Linked DNA regions of Homo sapiens. The protein of the gene in region 1 purifies or fractionates together with the protein of each later gene. This does not show direct contact. Each region holds a gene or a part of one and is shown in the gene's direction. Other genes may lie near its edges. The genes, in order: HMCES and HSPBP1.

Region 1 (10,206 bases):
TAAGTTGTATTTATATACACTGTAAACATCCACAGGAGTAGGGCCTCAGTGAAAATCTGATGGGAGAATGAATGGGGAACCTTCATGTAGACTCAGTGGGAGTATTATGTGTCAAGTTCAGGGAAGACACAGCTGAAATGGAGATAGAGATTCAGGATCTGTCAAATCCAGAGGACACAGCTGGGGTAGGAGGTTTCTGCTAGTTTCTGCTGAACTAGAAACAGCTGCTGGTCCTGAAGAGCTCATCATCCCCTAGGAGGGACAGGCATAGGAAGCAGACCTCTGAGAATGCTATGTAATTCCCTGCATGCCAGGTCCTGGAAGCACTGACACTAGGCAGGCTTAGAAGAGATGTGATCTCACAGCAGGCGGCTCTAGGCTGAATTAGTAGATTGGTACTTGGGATTAGGGCGTTTTCTGTTGAAGGGATACCATTTGCCTTTGGGCACCTCAAGGATAGGTACCTGGTCAAGTTGCTCTATGTCCCCAGAGTCTAGCACAGTCCTCAGTGCCGAGCAAGCACCTGTGGAAAGAGTTGCAGGAAGGGATGTGTGGATGAGTTCAGAGCAGAGGCCCGTAGGTGTGTAGATGGGTGCCTGATTTCTACCTCCATCTCTCCAGCTGGAAGATCTGGAAGTTACTGTAGCTGATCACATTCAAAAGGTCATGAAACTGAACTTCGAAGCAGCCTGGGATGAGGTAGGGGATGAATTTGAGAAGGAGGAAACGTTCACCTTGTCTACCATCAAGACACTTGAAGGTAAAATCCTGGGAATGCCATCTCTGGCCTAATTACTGTTCAAGATCTTTGGCTACTATTGAAGTGCTCATCCCTTTTCTCTCCAAGGATCCAGGGCCATGTCTGGAGCACATATGTCAAATGCCACTTCATTAAAAGCCCTTCAGAACATGGGGGAGTGGTGGTGGCACAAAGGGCAGATAAGATGGCTTAACAATATTGGGATTTCTCATTACAGAGGCTGTGGGTAATATTGTGAAGTTCTTGGGAATGCACCCTTGTGAGAGGTCAGACAAAGTGCCGGATAACAAGAACACCCACACGTTGCTCCTGGCTGGTAAGTGGCATTTCTAGATGGGGAGGGCCTGGATAGCTTACAGCCTGGATGCCACTGGATCCTGGGCTAAGGACTCCACTGTAAATATGGGGAGTCAAAATTCACAGCATTTAAAATTCACAAAGTATAAAATAATCTGCAGCGAAATGTTTCCTCCCTACCTTGGCTGCCAGCCATTCAGATTCCCTTCCGAGAAGCGACCAGTGTTACTATTACAAACAATACTTGTATAACCTTGCGGTTATTTTATGGCTATAAAAGCTAATAGGAACGCATTTCCTTTTTTTAACTCAAATGTTTATGTACAAATGGTATATATATTGTCCTCCGATTTGCTTTTCACTTTACATTGCATCTTAGAGATCTTCCCCGTCAATATGTAGAGCTTCCTCATTCTTTTTCTTTTAATTGTGGTAAAATATACATAAAATTCACCATTTCGACCATTTTCAAGTGTATGGTTCAGCGGCATTAAGTACATTCACACTATTGTAAAACTATGACCACCATCCATCTCCAGAACTTTTTTCATCCCAAACTGAATCCTCATTTTTTTTATAGTTGCTTAGTATTCCATTGTGTGGATGCACCACATATTCTATGGAACAGCCACTACTGATGAACATTTAGTTTGATTTCAATCTCTTGCTATTACAGATGTTACAGTAAATAATCGTGTACACACACACACACACACACACACACAGTTTACTTTGCATGTGTACACTGAGAATATCTGTAGGATAAATTTTCCAAGGCATCACCAGTTCAAAGTGATTTGTGTTTCTCATCTTGATAAATAACTCCAAGTTGCCTTCCATAGAATTGTATACCTTTCTTCCTACACTGTGGACAACATAATATGTTACCACACTTTATGATCTTTTCCAGTCTGTGTGGACAATGATATCTTAGTGTAGTTTTTGTATTTTCAATGAAGTTAAGTATCTTCTTAAATGTTGAGGCATTTGTATTTCCTTTTCTGATCATTGTCTTCATATCCTTTGTCTTATTTTCTACAGGGTTGGCTGAGTGTACCCACACTCATTCTCCTTCCCAGATTATTTACTAGCAAACTCCAGAAATAGCATTTTATATGTAAATCCTGTATCTGTATGTTTCTCTAAGAGAGAATGACCCCTTCCCTTTTTTAAAGGACAATACAATTATCATACCTAAAACAGTTAACAAAAGGAAATGGGATGATTTTTTTTGGCTGAGTGTTTATAAACAGGGTTGAAAGGAGGCTCTGCTTCAGTACCCTGCCTACAGCTGACAGTTTGTAGCCACATTGAAACAACCTAGTCCCCTGGGTCTTGCAGACACCTGCCCTGTGGTTTTCTCGTGGTGGGGCTGTCCCCTTCATTTGTGCTCTCAGATTCAGTCAACGTGCAAGAGCCTCTGTGACATGAGATATAAGCCTTTTATGTCCATCAGTTCATTTGAACTTAGCAGAAGCCTGAAATATGGTATTATCATCCCTGCCACTTTGTAGTTGAGGATACTGAAGTCCTGAGAGACAGTGACTTTCTTTTTTTTTTTTTTTTTTGAGACGGAGTCTAGCTCTGTCACCCAGGCTGGCATGCAGTGGCACAATCTCTGCTCGCTGCAACCTCCGCCTCCCGGGTTCAAGCGATTCTCCTGCTTCAGCCTCCCGAGTAGCTGGGATTACAGGCGTCCACCACCATGCCCAGCTAATTTTCGTATTTTTAGTAGAGATGGGGTTTCACTGTGTTGGCCAGGCTGGTCTCGAATTCCTGACCTCATGATCTGCCCACCTCAGCCTCCCAAAGTGCTGGAATTACAAGCGTGAGCCACCGCGCCTGGCTGAGAGACAGTGACTTTCACAGTGAAATCCCTCACTCAGGGATTTCAGCCCAGCTCTCCTGCCCGTTTCACTACACCAGAGCTGCCTTCATGGGTTGCTGCAAATGCCATCCTTAGCCTGCCCTGTACAGTCCCTTCTGCTGTATATATCTGTACTTCTCTCTTCCCTTCTAGGTGTGTTCCGGGGTGGTCATGACATCCTGGTGCGCTCCCGGCTGCTGCTTTTGGACACAGTGACAATGCAGGTGACAGCCAGAAGTTTGGAGGAGCTGCCAGTAGACATCATCTTGGCATCTGTGGGATAAGAGGCCAGCCTGCATAGGACCTCATACCCTTCCCCAACACTACCTGGAAGTTGTGCCTTCCTCATGAAACTGGCAGAAACCCCTTCCCAAGCTTCTGTATTGAAAAACAATTAGGAATCATTGCAGATTTTTTTTTATTCTGCTCCCACCTCCCACCCGGGACTACTTGCTGGTGACTTTTTTTTTTTTTTTTTTTAAATAGGGGATGATTTTAGCTTGTCCTAAATCTTGCTGTCCACCCTTCCAGGAAAGGGACATTGTAAATGAATAAAACATTCTCAACTCCTCTTGAATCTATCCCCCAAGAAACCATCTTATCCCTGTAATAAATCAGCATGTATTTATTGAATGATTGCTACTTCTGCAGACTCATGCTTCAGGGCTCCACCTTCCCCTTCAAGGCCTCCCCTAAAGAGGCAGAACACCTGCCCTGTCCCCCTTGCACCCACAGCCCTTTGGCTGTTGTAGTCCTGTGAGGCAGGACCCTCTCCCCGTCATCGCTGTCCCAGCACCAAGCCCAGGGGTGGGAGCGGTAGAGGGTGGTTGAGTGAATCAGCTAACAGGCAGAGTTCACACTCCCTCCCGTTCGTGCTTCTTCACAACGCATCCTCCTTTGATAGTCGATAAATGGAGGCTCCAAAGGGCTTGGGTCCTGTGTCTGATCGTTCCAGCATCTGGTCTTACATGGAGTGTGCCCTGGGGTTTCTGCTCCCTGTTCAGTTCAGCGAATCAGCATAGGCGAACAGCCCTCTAGAGCATTCTCTGTTGGTTGCAGATGAAGAATCTCCGGTTTAGGTCCCAAGGGGAGCAGGCTTTTAAACTCAAGCCAGGCTATTTTACCAACTTTGAGGCCAAAGTACACCCGAAAGGGCTGTTTTAAAAATCTGGGCCTCACCCTTAGAGATTCAGCTGAGGGGCTGGGGCAGGAAAGGCTTATTCTAGTGCCCACCAATGTTTGAGGGCGAAGTGCGCGATTCCTGGAAGTTCTTCTGACTTTCATTTCTTCAGTGTTCCTCCATTTTTGCCTCGCACTGTGAGGCAGCTGGCAGGACTGTGAAGTAAGGAGTGGAGTTTCCTGGTTTCCCGCCTTCCATGACCCTGTGCCCTAGACTCAGCGCGGCGGGAACCTTCCCTGCCAGCCCTGAAACACGCTGGGGGCGGGGAGGAAGGTTAACCCCGCCAGGGAACGGCCAATATGGAGGAAAGTGGAGTCCCGAGAAGCTTGGGATCGATATGTCTCCCAAGGCAGTCACTGTCTCCTGGGGAAACGGGAGAAAATTCATCCCAAACCGGAGGGGAGAAGACGCCGCCTCCGGGGCCCGAGGGCACCGCGGGAACCAAGGGCCCTTGGGGGCGGGGCCTGGCGCCGGGAGCGCGGGCTGAGGCGGGGCTGACGTGAGGGGCGGTGACGCGGGTGGCCAAAGCGGAGCGGAGCGGGGGTGAGGAGAGTCGAGGGAGGTGACGCGCGCTGCCGGGGCGAGGTGAGGGGAGGGGAGGCGACGCGGGCGGTCGGGGTATGGCGAGGGGAGGGGAGGGGAAAGGAAGCGACGCGAGCTGACAGAGGGGAGCAGAGGCCCGAGCGGACGCGAGGCGACGCGGAGAGGGCGGCCTGGGCCGAAGTGAGGCGACGCGGGGCGGCGGAGTCTGAGGGCCGGAGCGGAGCGGAGGCGACGCGGGGAGGGGCGAGGGATCGCGGCCGGTGGCTGGGGGCCACCTGCTCCCCGAGCACCGGCCCCCGCTCCGGGGAGCAGAGTCCGGAGCGGGATCCGCGGCCCACAGGTTCGCAGGTCGGGCCCGGGGACGCTGCGGACTAGCGGGCGGGAGGCGGGGATTCTGCACCCCGGCCCCGGGCCGTCCAGTGGCCGCCCTCGAGGTGACCGGTTGCTGGCCGGCGTGGGTCGCTGACCCCAGCGGGGACTGGGGGGAAGGACGGGGAGTTGGGGGCACCAAGTCACCCGGAGGAGGCGACCCCAGCTAGCTGCGCTTGCCCTGCTTCGCTGGACTGTGAAGCCCCCTCCGCTGCGGCTCTTCCTGCGCTCAGGCAGGCATTTGCAGAGCTCCTCTCGGGACTTGCCTCAGTGCCCTGCACGGAGCTGGGCAGTGGGCTCAGGGAGCGAAGCAAACGGGCACATCCTTGTCTTTGTGGGACTTTTTGGGGAAGACTTTAGACGGTGGTCACGGAGGGGCACGGCCCTGTGGGAACGGAAAGAGAAGGCGGGGACTCAAGGAATAAGACCTAATATTTGAGATACGTAAGCCTTTTCCTTACGTTTTGTAATTTAAAGGTTGCGAGGGGCGGTGTTGAAGAATGTGTGGGCGAACATCCTGTCACTTACCTAGAGATGTTCTCACGAGAGCTTGCGCCTACCAGGATCGGCGGGGCCAGCAGCGGCTCCCGGAGTGGAGGGACCCTGATAAGTACTGCCCCTCTTACAACAAGAGTCCTCAATCCAACAGCCCAGTGCTTCTGTCTCGACTGCACTTTGAGAAGGTAACCAGCATTGCACTATGCTAGCCCCTCGCCCAGCCTCGTGATGGTCATCTCCTATTTGGTTTGGTGTGTGCTCAGCCTCTTGGGATGACATTAAAAACCAGCCTTTACTGATATATTCTGACTTCCAGTTGAGAACCTCTCTTGGCCTCATGAAAGAAGTTTTATCAGTGGCTTCTAACACTGATAAAGACGTATTTTTCAGGCTCAATTTAAATGCCTTTGCTATACATGGCATACTAGCCTTAATATATGCCAAATTTATATGAGCTTTGTGTTTTAAAATAGCAGCTTTCACTGATCATCAGGGTCATTGGAGTATCTTAAAAATATAATAAAAAAATTTAAGGCCAGGTGCCATGGCTCATGCCTGTAACCCCAGCACTTTGGGAAGCCGAGGTGGGAGGATCACTTGAGCCTAGGAGTTGGAGACCAGCCTGGGCAACATAGGGAGACCCCATCTCTACAAAAAATAAAAAAATGAGGTGGGAAGATCACTTGAGCTGGGGAGGTCGAGGCTTCATGAGCCATGGTTGTACCACTGCACTCCCACCTGGGTGACAGATCAAGACCCTGCCTAAAGAAAAAATTTAAAAAAATAAAAAATTTAAGAATATTTCTATGCCCTTTACCAGGCCAGCTTAATCAGACTTCTCTAGGCCTAGGACAGGCTTAAGATCAGTTAATTTAAAACACTTCTGATGTTTCTTGAGCATTGAAAAGTTTTATTCTTTCTGCTTGTGTTTTCAATCTTTTTGTGTTTGTCTTTTACTAAGGCTAGAAACACGTATTTGGTTTGGTTATCTGAAGTTTAATTGCATTCATTGTGTTTATAGTATTTATCCCTGTAGTGTTGGAATTACCAGTCACTTACATTCATATTTTAGTTTTTTGCCTTATCTCCTGAAAGTGTGTGTGTCTTTGTATGTGTGTGTAATAAAAATGCTTCGTTCTAGAAAGTAATAGTTTCTCCATGTCTTAAATATTTTAAATGACCTTGACATGTTTTTAAAAATCGTGATTGTTGGCTGGGCACGGTGGCCCACGCCTGTAATCCTAGCACTTTGGGAGGTGGAGGCGGGCGGATCACGAGGTCAAGAGATCGAGACCATCCTGGCCAACATGGTGAAACCCTATCTCTACTAAAAATACAAAAATTAGCTGAGTATGGTGGCACGCACCTGTAGTCCCAGTTACTTGGGAGGCTGAGGCAGGAGAATCACTTGAACCTGGGAGGTGGAGGTTGCAGTGAGCTGAGATTGCACCACTGCACTCCAGCCTGGCGGCAGAGCGAGACTCCATCTCAAAAAAAAAAAATTGTGATTGTTTCCTTCCTGAATTTTGACTGTATTTGATTCATAATGCTGAAATCACTTTATAAAGTTGATTATACCTCTGGTACATACTCTTTAAACTTTTGTGATAATATGATAGTCAAAAAGGACTCATTTCTGCATTATAGGGAATCACATCATTTTGAAATAAAGATAACAGGCTGGGCATGGTGGCTCACACCTGTAATCCTAGCACTTTGGGAGGCCAAGACGGCTGGACCACCTGAGGTCAGGAGTTCGAGACCAGCCTGGCCAACATGGTGAAACCCCGTCTCTACTGCAAATACAAAAATTAGCTGGGTGTGATGGCGGGCGCCTGTAATCTCAGCTACTTGGGAGGCTGAGGCAGGAGAATCGCTTGAACCCGGGAGGCGAAGGTTGGGGTGAGCCAAGATTGTGCCACTGTACTCTGGCCTGGGCAACAGAGTGAGACTCCATCTCAAAAAGAAATAAAGATAACAAATAATGGCTGGGCACGGTGGCTCACGCCTGTAATCTCAGCACTTTGGGAGGCTGAGGCGGGGCAGTGGGATCTCTTGAGGTCACGAGTTTGAGATCAGTCTGGCCAACATGATGAAACTCTGTCTGTACTATAAAAAAAAAAAATGTGGAGGTTGCAGTGAGTCGAGAATGTGCCACTGCACTCCAGCCTGGGTGACAGAGCAAGACTCAGTCTCAAAAAAAAAAAAAAAAAAAAAATCAAATAATGTTCTTGGTTGAATGAAGCCATTTATATGACATAGTTATTTTTGTGTCATTTTTAGAGGATGCATACTTCCCTATTGAAACTTTTTGTTTTAAATGAGAGGGGAATCAAAATAAAATATTCTGGAGAACCTTGAAGGGGAAAAGAGAGCATAAAACATATTTCAAAGGAAAGCATAACTTAGAGTGAGAATAGAGAGCAGGATTAAGTGTATGAGCCTGGCCAGGCCTGGTGGCTCACGCCTGTAATTCTAGCACTTTGGGGGAGGCTGAGGCCAGAGAATTGCTTCAGGCCAGGATTTCAGGACACCAGCCTGAGCAAATGAGACCCTGTTTTTAACAAAAAAAAAAAAAAAAAGCCTTAGTCATTTATATGACCTCCTTAGAATTATAGAAAGTTAGCTGGAAGAAAAATTTGTCTAACAGATGTAAAGATAGAAGTATACATAGATTATGACTTGTCCTAGGTTACCTAATCAGTGAGGGACAGAACTAGAACTGAGATCCAGACCACCGTCCCCACTCCAGTGGATGCATCCTGGAACCAGGAATGGGGAAGGTGGAGCCACTAGCAAATACAGCCCTCATTTGGGCCAGTGGTATGAATTTGCTGATATAGTATTTGATTTCACATCTCTAACAAGTTTTATTAAGATTGCTATGGTTTCTTAATTTTGATAATATTTGATATCTCATTTTTCTCAGACCTATAAATTATAAAGCAAAATTAGAACCATTTTAGCAGTTCATTCAAATCATTAACAGCCTGCATATGTATATAGATAGCAACATTTTCATTTGAAACCACAGATTTGCAAATTACTTCCTGTTTCATTTATCCACCCCAGTGCTACCAGGTGTTCTGTTCAGAAGTCCAAAAGGGTAGAGGAAAGATGACTAATATTGAGCAATGGTCTTAGTATTTTGGCTTTTCAACTACTTTCTATTCGTCATTCTCACATTTGGATTTGGTTTACAGTTGTCAAGGGTACACTCTCAGCGCTGATCAGTGGAATTTGTGAGAGCAGAATTCTCAACCTTGACACTGTTGACAGTTTTGGCCAGGATAATTTTTTGTCATAGGGAGCTATTCTGGGCGTTGTAGAGCGTTTAGCAACATCCTCTACCAGCTAGATGTCAGTAGCATCCTCCACAATAGCATCCCCCAGATCAGAGCAACCAAAGGTATCTCCAGATACTGCCAGAAGTCTCTGGATGGTGGGGAGGGGTGTGTCAGAATTGTCCCGTACTGAGAACCACAGATTTTTTCAGTATTGTTGTCTTGCAAATTTCTGATGAAAGATCATTTAGTTGACCATTGCGTAATGTTGTCTCATTCTCATTTATGCACTGAGCTGGGGGTCCTTCTGCTTGGAAGACTTTTTTTTTTTTTTGGAGACAGGGACTTGCTGTGTTGCCCAGGCTGGAGTGCAGTGGCGCAATCATGGCTCACTACAACCTTGACCTCCCAGGCTCAAGCGATCCTGCTGCCTCAACCTCCCCAGCAGCTGGGATCACAGGCTTTTCCTTTTGACATTTTGAGGGGGAAGTTCTCACTGTGTTGCTCAAACTGGTCTCAAGACTCTTGAGCTCAGGCCAGGTGCAGAGGCTCACACCTGTAATCTCATTACTTTGGGAGGCTGAGGCAGGTGGATCGCTTGCAGTCGGGAGTTGTAGACCAGCCTGACCAACATGGTGAAACCCTGTCTCTACTAAAAATACAAAATTAGTCGGGTGTGGTGGTGCATGCCTGTAATCCCAGCTACCTGGGAGGCTGAGGCAGGAGAATCGCTTGAACGTGGGAGGCGGAGGTTGCAGTGAGCCAAGATCGCGCCATTGCACTCCAGCCTGGGCAACAAGAGCGAAACTCTGTCTCAAAAAAGAAAAATCAACCTTGAGCTCAAGGGATCCTCCCCACTTGGCCTACCAGAGTGCCAGGATTATAGGCTTGAGCTGCCAGAAGGCAAATTTGATTCTGGAAGAGAAAGAGGATTTATGAAATCTCTGTTTTCAACTGTTCTTTCTCACAAACACACACAAACAGTCCTCATTATTCTTAGATTCCATATTTCCAAATTCACCTACTCACTAAAATTTATTTGTAACCCCTAAATTCATACTCACTTTGCTTTTGCAATCATTGGTGCACATACAGAGAGCTGACAAATTTGAGTACCTTGATGTTTCCAGCTGAGGTTGATCGAGGCAGAGCTCTGCCTTCTTGTTTCATCTCTTACGTTATAAACAAGTATCTTTTTTGCAGCCAGTTTAGTGCCATGTGTGATTTCACTGTTTAAAATGATCCCAAGCATAGCACTAAAGTGCTGGCTGGTATTCCCAAGCTAAAGAAGGCTGTGATATGTCTTAAAAAGAAGATATATACATTGGATAAGCTTTAGTCAGGCATGAGTTATAGTGCTCTTGGTCTTGAATTTAGTGTAAATGAATTAAGAGTAAGTTTAAATTAG
Region 2 (10,138 bases), on another chromosome or scaffold:
AGAGTACATAGCAAATGGTCCCTGTCCCCAAACCTGGTCCCCATTCCAGAGAAAACCACTGTTATACCTGTTTCTGCTTCCAGAGATTTTAATAAATCTGTAAGAACAAATGTGGGTGTGTGTGGTGTGTGTGTGATGTGTGTGTGTAGTGGGTGTGTGGCGCGTGTGTAGGGTGTGTATGGTGTGTATGTGGGGTGTTTGGCGTGTCGTGTGTTAGTGTAGCGTGTACATGGGTTGTGTGGTGTGTGGTATATATGTGGAGGTGTGTGTGGTGTGTGTGTTGCATGTGTATGTGTGTGGGATGTGTGTGCTGGGGGGATGTATGTATATGTGTGGGGTATGTGGGGTGCATATGAGGTGTGTATGTGTGGTGCGTATGTGTGGTGTGTGGATGTGCATGGCGTGTGTGGGATGTGTGGATGTGGTGTGTGTATACGGGGTGTGTGGTGTGTGCTTATGTGGAGTGTGTCGTGTGTGGTATGTGTGCACACAGACACACGGATTAATCTCGTTTCCTCAGATGTGCACGGCTGGCACAGGCCATCCTGACTGTGGCGCACCTTGACCTGCCTCTGTCCTTTTTTCTTAAGCAACAGTAGCTTATCTTTCCCCTTCCTGCGGGTGAGGAATGCAGCAGTGGCCCCTGCTGAGGAGGGCGGCTTCTGGCTTTGCGTCTTCATGAGGTTGCATGAGGTTGCATGAGGTTGTGGTCAGCCGTCAGCCGGGCCTCGTTCCCTGAAGGTCTCATTGCACTAAGCCCTGTGCGCTGCACCTCATTGATCCCTCACAATCCCCCTCTGAGGAAGGGGTGCTAGAGATGGGCTTCCACCATGGCTCGCCCCGGGGCTAGCAGAGTTTTGCTGGCAGTTGGCAGGAAGCTCGGGCTGCGTGAGCGGCCTCACCACGTGGTGGTCGGCTTCCCCAGCGAAAGTTGTGCACGATGCAGGGCAAGAGCTCTGGGAGCTTGGATGCCATTCTTTTTTTTGCTCGGGGGTAAAATTCACATGAAAATGTTAAAGTATACCATTCAGTGGCATCTGTCCTTTTTTTTGGTGGCTGCAGGGTATGCCATTGTGTGGCTGTCCAGTACCATTACTGGAGTTCCGTGCTGGGAGCCATTTGCAGGGTACGTCCCCTCAGCTCCTGCTGCCCGAGGCGGTGGTGCCACTGCCCTTCCCAGGACAGGAGGGGATGGACTCGCTCGCCCTCTGTGGAGCCACTCCAAAGTGGTTCCTTGTTACAGTCTACCAGAGTGGCACATTTATTACAATCGATGAACCTACATGGACACCTCATTGTCACCCAGAGTCCATAGTTGACACTGGGGCGCACTCTTGATGCTGTATGTACTATGGGTTTGGACAACTGTATCATGACATGGATCCATACTGTAGTATTCTACAGAGGAATCTCGCTGCCCTACAAATCCTCTGTGCTCCCGCTAGTCATCCCACCCCTGAGCTTTTTACTGTCTCCATAGTTTTGCCTTTTCCAGAATGTCATATGCTTGGAACCATGCAATCTGCAGCCTTTTCCGACTGGCTTCTTTGGCTTAGTAATCTGCTTTTAAGGTTCTTCCATGTCTTTTCTTGGCTTGATAGCTCATTTCTTTTTAGCGCTGAATAAGCGTAACTTTTTTAAGGGAGATGTGTGGGCTGCAGTGATGACTTTGGCTTTCTTTCCAAAAATGACGGCAGCCATACTGTGATCCCTGCCCCCAACTGCTGCACAGAGAAGAGGGTGAATGCGGCGAGGGTGGGTGGAAGGTGGGCGGTGAGCTGGGGGGTTATGGTGATAACCTAGGCAAGAGATCAAGGTTGTGGTAGGGAGCAGTGGTTCTCAAACAGGGACAATCGTGTCCTCCACAGGACATTTAGACAAATGTCTGGAGACATTTTTAGTTGTCGCAGCTGGGAGAGAGGGACTATTGGCATCTACTGGGTAGAGGCCAGGGATGCTGCTCAACATCCTGCAATGCACAGGACGGGCCTCCCAACCCAGAATGATCTGGCCCCAGATACCAACCGTGCCCAGGTGGAGAAACCCTGGCGTAAAGGGGACAGGTCTCTCCTGGGTACATTTTGAAGGTAGAGCTGACAGGCCTTGCTTACAGATTGAATGAGAGGAGTCTTTGTGTTTTCCAGTCCATGCATGCCTGTTCTTTTTTCTTTCTTTAATTAAATAACATCTGGCTGGGCGTGGTGACTCATGCCTATAATCTCAACATTTTGGGAGGCCGAGACAGGTGGATCACTTGAAGCCAGGAGCTCAAGACCAGCCTGGCCAACATGGTGACACCCTGTCTCTACTAAAAATACCAAAAAATTAGCCAGGCATGGTGGGGCATGCCTGTAATCTCGGCTACTCGGTAGGTTGAGGCATAAAAATTGCTTGAACCCGAGAGACGTATGTCGCAGTGAGCCAACTGCCACTGCACTCCAGCCTGGGCGACAGAGCGAGACTCTGTCTCAAAAATGAAATAAAATAAACTAAAATAAATAAATATGTAACCCAATATGTCCAAACTATTATAATTTCAATGTGTAATTAATATGGACTATTAATGAGACACTGTATTTTTTGTCATGCTAAGTCTTCAAAACCTAGTGTGTGCATTTTACAAATGAAGCACATCGCAACATGCTGAGTTTTCAGGGGTAGTGTGGAGTGCGCCAGAGCAACAACGTTGTGTGTGTTTTTCTTTTTTTGGTTTTCTTTTTGTGTGTGTGTGAGATGGAGTTTCGCTCTTTTTGCTCAGGCTGGAGTGTAATGGCGCAATCTCGGCTCACTGCAACCTCCACCTCCCGGGTTCAAATGATTCTCCTGCCTCAGCCTCCCTAGTAGCTGGGATTACAGACGCACGCCACCACGCCCAGCTAATTTTGTATTTTTAGTAGAGACGGGGTTTCACCATGTTGGTCAGGCTGGTCTCGAACTCCTGACCTCAAGTGATCTGCCCACCTCGGCCTCCCAAAGTGCTGGGATTACAGGCATGAGCCACCGCGCCCAGCCAACGTTGTGTTTAATGGAAAATATTTTACACTGCTTCAGTTTTTCACCTTAAGTTTAAATGAATGGAACTTAAATGAAATGAACAACTCTTTTCCTTAGTTGCACTGGCCACATATCAGGTGTTTAGTGGCCACAAGCTACTAGCAGCTTCTGTCCTTCTTGGCCAGCACAGGCCTAGAGCCTACCCAGGAGGGGGCACCTTACTGGAGGTGCACTCCAAAGGTCAGTTCTCATCCTGCTGGGAGTCCTTCCAGAGTTCTCATTGCCCTCTGGATAAAGGTCATGCATGCTGTGTAGCCTGGCTCTTTAGGCCTCAGTTTCCTCATCTGTAAAATAGAATTCTGAAAGCACACACTTCCAGGATAATTGTGAGGATTAAAAGATGTTGCGGACTGGGGACGGTGGCTCACGCCTGTAATCCCAGCACCTTGGGAGGCTGAGGCAGGTGGATTATGAGGTCTGGAGTTCAATACCAGCCTGGCCAACATGGCAAAACCCTGTCTCTACTCAAAATACAAAAATTAGCTGGGTGTAGTGGTGCATACCTGTAATCCCAGCTACTCGGGAGTCTGAGGCAGGAGAATAGCTTGAGCCTGGGAAGCAGAGGTTGCAGTGAGCCAAAATGGTGCCACTGCACTCTAGCCTGGATGATAGAGCAAGACTCTGTCTCAAAAAAAAAAAAAAGAGAGAGATGACACAGCCGGGCGCAATGGCTCATGCCTGTAATCCCAGCACTTTGGGAGGCCCAGGCAGGTGGATCACTTTAGGTCAGGAGCTTGAGACCAACCTGGCCAACATGGTGAAACCCTGTCTCTACTATATATACAAAAATTAGCCGGGTGTGGTGGCAGGTTACTATAATCCCAGCTACTTGGGGGGCTGAGGCTGAAGAATAGTTTGAACCTGCGAGCGGAGGTTACAGTGAGCCAAGATTGCTCCACTGCACACTCCAGCCTGGGCAACAGAACGAGAGTCCATCTCAAAATGAAATAAATAAGTAAATAAATAAAATAAAAAAATTAAAAAAGATGATGCTTCCATCAATGGAGGAATGGATAAAATATGGTATATCCATACAATGGAATGTTATTCAGCCATGAAAAAGAATGAAGTGCTGATACCACTTACGACATGAATGAACCTGGAAAACATCATGCTGAGTGAAAGCAGTCAGACACAAAAGGTCACGTATTTTATGGACACATTTATATTAAATGTCTGGGACAGGTAAATCCATAAAGGAAGAAAGTATATCTGTGGTTGCAGGGGCCAGAGGGAAGGGAAATTGGGAATGACTGCTCATAGGTTTCCTTTGGGGGGTGATGAAAATTTCCTAGAGTTAGTGGTGATGGTTATACAACCCTGTGAATATCTTTAAAAGGCTGAACTGTGTGGATTGTGAATTATATCTCAAAAGCATACTTCAAAAAAAGATAATGCTTGCATATGCAGGCCCATGGCAAGGGATGATAGTGGTTGGTGGTGATGATGGTGACGATGATTGACGATAATTATATTGTTAATGGTAGTGATGATGATGGCGGTGATGGTGATGTGGTGGTGATGGTGATAGTGATGGTGATAGTGATGGTGATGTTGGTGATGTCATGGTGATGATGGTGGTGGTGATGGTGGTGGTGGTGATGGTGATAGTGATGGTGGTGGTGGTGAGGATGGTGGTGATGGTGATGGTGGTGAGGATGAGAATGGTGATGATGATGATTGTGATGGTGGTGAAGATAGTGGTGATGGTGGTGATGATGATGTTGGTGATGGTGGTTGTGATGATGTTGGTGATGGTGCTTGTGATGACAGTGGTGGTGGTGGTGACTGCAAGCTCAGGACCTTTCCCCCTCTCCCAGGTCTGGTCCGAGAGCAGGAGGCTGGGCTGCTGCAGTTCCTCCGCCTGGACGGCTTCTCTGTGTTGATGAGGGCCATGCAGCAGCAGGTGCAGAAGCTCAAGGTCAAATCAGCATTCCTGCTGCAGAACCTGCTGGTGGGCCACCCTGAACACAAAGGTGTGGCAGCCCTTGAGTGAGGGCAGGAGTGGGGAGCAGACGCCCTGGGGTGGGTGCAGGTGTGGGAGAAGGGGAGGAACAGGCATCCCGGGGAGGGCATAGGAGATGGGTGGGGCTGCCCCTCTGACCCCTGCAGCCCTCCCCCCAGGGACCCTGTGCTCCATGGGGATGGTCCAGCAGCTGGTGGCCCTGGTGCGGACAGAGCACAGCCCCTTCCACGAGCACGTGCTTGGAGCCCTGTGCAGGTACTTTGGCTCCTTGAGAGGACGGGGCCTGGGGTGGGGGCCCCGTCCTCTCAAGGTGGGGGTGGCTCAGGAATCAGCCCGTAGGGACTCAGGAGTTGGGACCTTCCCGTAGAGAGGAAGGGTGTGGGGCCAGAAAGGAGCAGGAGTCAGGGAGCCTCAGTTTCCTCACCAGTAGGGCTGGCACAGAGGCCTTGCAGGAGGGAGAGAGGCTTCTGTACACGCCCCCACCAGTGGATTAGTGTCTAATCAGATGATGCTGGAGCTCTCAACAGCACACCAGAGTTGACACGCACCAGGCCCTGTGCTGAGCCCCTCAGCACCCACCCTGGGCCAGGGGCAGCGTGAGGTCCATTCCGCAGATGGGGAAATGGAGGCCCATTGTGGGGCAGCGACTTGCCAGGCTCCTGAGTGAGCCAGGGGACGGGGCGGGCGATAGGGTTGGGTCAGTGAGGCCTCTAGAGGGAGGTCCTAAGGGCCGCTGTCATGTCCCTCACAGCCTGGTGACAGACTTTCCGCAGGGTGTGCGCGAGTGTCGGGAGCCGGAACTGGGCCTGGAGGAGCTCCTCCGCCACCGCTGTCAGCTGCTGCAGCAGCATGAGGAGTACCAGGTACATGGGGAGGGGACGGGGTGCAAGGAGGACCAGGTGCAAGGGGGAGGGGACAAGGGCTCCAGGAGGACTAGGTGTGTGGGGAGGGGATGGGGTTCGAGGAGGATCAGGTGCCAGGGGGAGGGGACAGGGGCTCCAGGAGGACCAGGTACACGGGGAGGTGACGGGGTGCAAGGAGGACTAGGTGTGAGGGGCAGGGGATGGGGTTCGAGGAGGATCGTGTGCCGGGGGAGGGGACAGCGGCTCCAGAAGGACCAGGTGAGTTGGGGAAGGGACAGGGTGTGAGGAGGACCAGGTGTGAGGGGGAGGGGCCTGGGGGGTGAGGAATTCCCCAGGTTAGACCAAGTGTGGTAGTGGGGACCCTAGTAGGGGCAGAGCCAGCCAGTCCTTGCCCTTGGGGGCTCCTGGGTCCGCTGGTTCAGGCTTTCATTCGTGTTCTCGTGCATTTCACTTATCTTCCATTCAGCAGATGTTTATTTCATGCCTAGCATTCGTCCCGTGCTGTGTCAGAGTAGGAGAGACAGCAAGGAGACAGGAGCTTGGAGATTCTTAAAGTGTTGCCCAATCATTGAATTATTATCTAAATTACCCAATACAGTTGTTTTACATTAAGTAAATGTAAATTGAATATAATATCACTCAAATGTCTTAATGATTTAACTATTTCATTAAATTGACAAGAAATAACAAATGGCAAAAAATAACCAATTATTTTGGGTAAATAACAAGTGATAAATAACAAGTCATCAGATATTTAATTAGATAAGGGGCAAATAAATAACTCATTAGATAACTAGATAAGTAACAAATGCTAAATCACAACTAATTAAAATTCAAATAGTTAACTGATTAAGTAATGCATTAATTTGTTGAAGTGAATGAATCAATGCTGGTGCTTCAGCAAAGCCGAGCTTAGCAAACGCACCCACCTCCTTGGGACGTTATATTCTATTAGATTCATTCCTGTGTAGACACTGTCAAGTGTCTGTATGTATTGAAAGTGTACTACATGGCCAGGCATGGTGGCTCACGCCTGTAATCCCAGCACTTTGGGAGGCCGAGGCAGGCAAATCATGAGGTCAGGAGTTCGAGACCAGCCTGGCCAACATGGTAAAACCCCATCTCTACTAAAAATACAAAAAATTAGCTGGGCATAGTGGCAGGTGCTTGTAATCCCAGCTACCCAGGAGGCTGAGGCAGGAGAATCGCTTGAACCGGGGAGGCGGAGGTTGCAGTGAGCCAAGATGCGCCACTGCACTCCAGCCTGGGCGACAGAGTGAGACTCCATCTCAAAAAAAAAAAAAAAAAAAGTGTACTACATGAGAAGTTTTGACTTATGTATACACCCGTGGAAACATTCAAATTAGATTTGTAACAGATTTTACTAATGCTTTGTGAATAGGTTCCGTAGTCACATGGTTGAAAATACAAGACCCGCAGGAGGGTAAACAGTGAAAAGTCTCTCTCCTGCCCCTCCTTCTGGCTACCCAGTTGCTCAGGTGTCCTTCTTAAAATATTAGGTACACACGAGCAAAGGTGCATGTGAATTCTCCTTTTTCTCTATGTTATGCAAAATAAGCCTGCCGTGCTGTGATGGCTGTTCTGCCCCTTGCTTTGTGGGCATTGCATGTCTCGCCTGTGGCTCTTTCATTTTGCAGCTGTACAGTGCGGATGGGCTCTTTTTTGTAGCATGGATATGCAGGTTGTTTCTACACTCTCGCTATGACAAACACTGCTGAAAGAATAACCTTTTGTATATGTTATTACATATGTCTGTAGAACAATTTCTAGAAGGGAAATGGCTGGGGTCAGGTATGTTAAAGGTGAAGGTTAAAGGGTTAAGGGCCGTTTCATTAGCTATCACCAAGCTGCTCTCCATAGAAGTTCAACCATTGACACTCCAGTCATGAGGGTGCCCAACTCCCCAAATCTTGGTCAGGACAAAGTGGCCTCGATGAACCATTTGACCTTTTTTCAAACTGATTGTTGAAAAGTAGTACTCCAGTCCAGTTTACATTTCTCCCATGAGTGAAATTTGGCATCTTTTCTCTTTCTTGTGAACTGTTCGTTCTCATCCTTTGCCCACTTATCTATTTATTGGGTGATGGTTTTTGCGAATGACTTTTTTAAGCTCTTTAAGAGTTAAGTATATTAGCCATTTGTGCTATGAATCACAAATATTTTTCTCCAACCTCGTTTTCTTTTTCTTTTTTTGCCATGGGAGTATTTTTTATATTACGTAGTTTAACCTCTCAGTGCTTTCTTTCATGGTTTCTGGGGTTTGTATCCGCAGAAAGTTTTGAGCAGTGGTCCATATCTGGGAGTTAGAAAGAGCCCAAGAGTGCTGATATGAGGCAGACCAATGGAGTGAGACGAGTCTGGGGGACCCCGGGTTCTAGTTCAAGTAGTTCAGACACCAGTGTGAAGACAGTGAATCATGGATCTGAGCAGTGATTAAAAAAGCCTAACCTCTGGTGGGGGGGAGTGGGTGGTGGCCAGGAGAGAAGAGGAGTCACCTCTGGGTGCCAAGAATGCTGGAGGCAGGGTCCGGCCTCTGCACTCAGGCCCCTTGCTCCCTGCCCCTGCCCAATCCAGGAGGAGCTGGAGTTCTGTGAAAAGCTGCTACAGACCTGTTTCTCCAGCCCAGCGGACGACAGCATGGATCGGTGAAACCAGGTGGCTTCTTGCCCCCTTCTCCGTGGGAACCCCAGGCCTCTTGCCTCCCTCCCCACCTACAAGGCCCTCTCCCAAGGGATCGCAGGGCCTAGGTGCCTGGACCCAGGGTGTGCCAGCCCGTCTCTGTGCAGTCCCTGGAAGGGGCGCTGAGAAAGGCACCAGCTCCTTGGACCCCACCTCCCATGCTCTCACTCTCATCCCCGTTCTCTTGTCCACACAGCTCTTCCAATAAAGGTGTTTCTCTTCCTCCTTCTCCTCCTTCACTGCCGCCTTTGTCATCTCCTTTGGAGGGTGCATGGGGGACGGGAGGAGGGGCACGGGTTTAAGGGACTTGGGGAGCCACTGGAAGAATAATAAAAGTGTTGCTCTTTATCATCTATAGAGCCATTGTGTCATTTACTCTTCCCTGTCTTTCCTGAGCAACAGTGTGTGGGACATCTGTCCTTTTTTCGGCCACCTGGCAAACCTGAATTCTAGGTTTGAGGAATTTCCCAGGTTAGACATCTAAATTTTCCCTAGGGTAGCCGCCATTTCCCTTCCCAGCATCCTTTGCTGTAGGGTAATCATGTGACATTAGCTCCACAAATCAGAACTCTCTCTGGGAATCTGTTTTGTACACCAATCAGAACCCGCTGGTGGTCTAGCTCCTCTACCAATCAGAGCCCGCCGGTCGTCGGGCCAAGAGTTGGCGGTGGAGGGGCCCCTGCCCAGGTTCCCTTCTGGCTAGTGCAGGAGCAGCCACACCTGGCTTCTGGACAGGGCTGGCAGAGATTCTGGCGGGAGTGTCTGAGCCAGGTGCCGTTGATGGAGGCTGCACTGTGTCTCAGGAGCAGGCCTGTGGCTGGGTGTGGGCTTCATTCCTGACTGCAAAGCGCCAAGCGGATTCTGTAGCTTTCTCAGAGACGTGGGATTGGGGCGGGAGGTGGGGGTGTCGGAGGCTGCCTCAATTCCTTTAATAAATTCCTTTTCTGTTTAGCTACAAGAAATTTTGTCATTTGTAGACAAGAGCTTTGAAAGCTGTTGTTTTTCCAGAGAGGAGGCTGAGCTCAGAGGAGGCTGACCCCTGACCAAGTTCACAGCCAGGATTCACAGCTGGACTAATTCCAGAGCGATCCTCCTCTTTCTTTTTCTTTTTCTTTCTTTTTTTTTTCTTTTGAGACGGGAGTCTCACTCTGTTGCCCAGGCTGGAGTGCAGTGGCCCGATCTTGGCTCACTGCAGCCTCCACCCTCCGAGTTCAAGAGATTCTCCTGCCTCAGCCTCCCAAGTAGCTGGGATTACAGGCGCCTGCCACCGCGCCCGGCTAATTTTTGTATTTGTAGTAGAGACCAGGTTTCACCATCTTGGCCAGGCTGGTCTTGAACTCTTGACAGGGTGATCCACCCTCCTCGGCCTCCCAAAGTGCTGGGATTACAGGTGTGAGCCACTATGCCCGGCCAATCCTCCTCTTTCTTGTATCCTGGTTTCCTAGGACAATTTGATGTCAGACTCATTCCTTTTGTGTGGATTGTTCTGGTGGATCTGGGATTTTTGAGTCTATTTGGATTGGTTTTTATCACTCCTCTTCCTAAATCCAGGATA

The links.
Region 2: the proteins of HMCES (region 1) and HSPBP1 purify together in Homo sapiens (affinity purification with mass spectrometry; 2 studies listed by BioGRID and IntAct, with this or other methods). This does not show direct contact.

What each region holds. Positions count from the first base shown.
Region 1 is NC_000003.12:129,274,217-129,284,422, forward strand, and holds the start of HMCES (abasic site processing protein HMCES), read left to right. Parts: upstream 1-4,653; 5' UTR 4,654-4,689; intron 4,690-4,757; exon of another isoform or gene 4,758-4,995; intron 4,996-5,493; 5' UTR 5,494-5,516; coding exon 5,517-5,699; intron 5,700-10,206. Other genes in the region: COPG1 (coatomer subunit gamma-1), read left to right, coding at 622-760, 978-1,076, 3,078-3,208.
Region 2 is NC_000019.10:55,261,023-55,271,160, reverse strand, and holds the end of HSPBP1 (hsp70-binding protein 1), read left to right. Parts: intron 1-4,874; coding exon 4,875-5,030; intron 5,031-5,178; coding exon 5,179-5,275; intron 5,276-5,771; coding exon 5,772-5,883; intron 5,884-8,478; coding exon 8,479-8,553; coding exon of another isoform or gene 8,554-8,791; 3' UTR 8,792-8,938; downstream 8,939-10,138. UniProt on the Homo sapiens protein: Inhibits HSPA1A chaperone activity by changing the conformation of the ATP-binding domain of HSPA1A and interfering with ATP binding. Interferes with ubiquitination mediated by STUB1 and inhibits chaperone-assisted degradation of immature CFTR.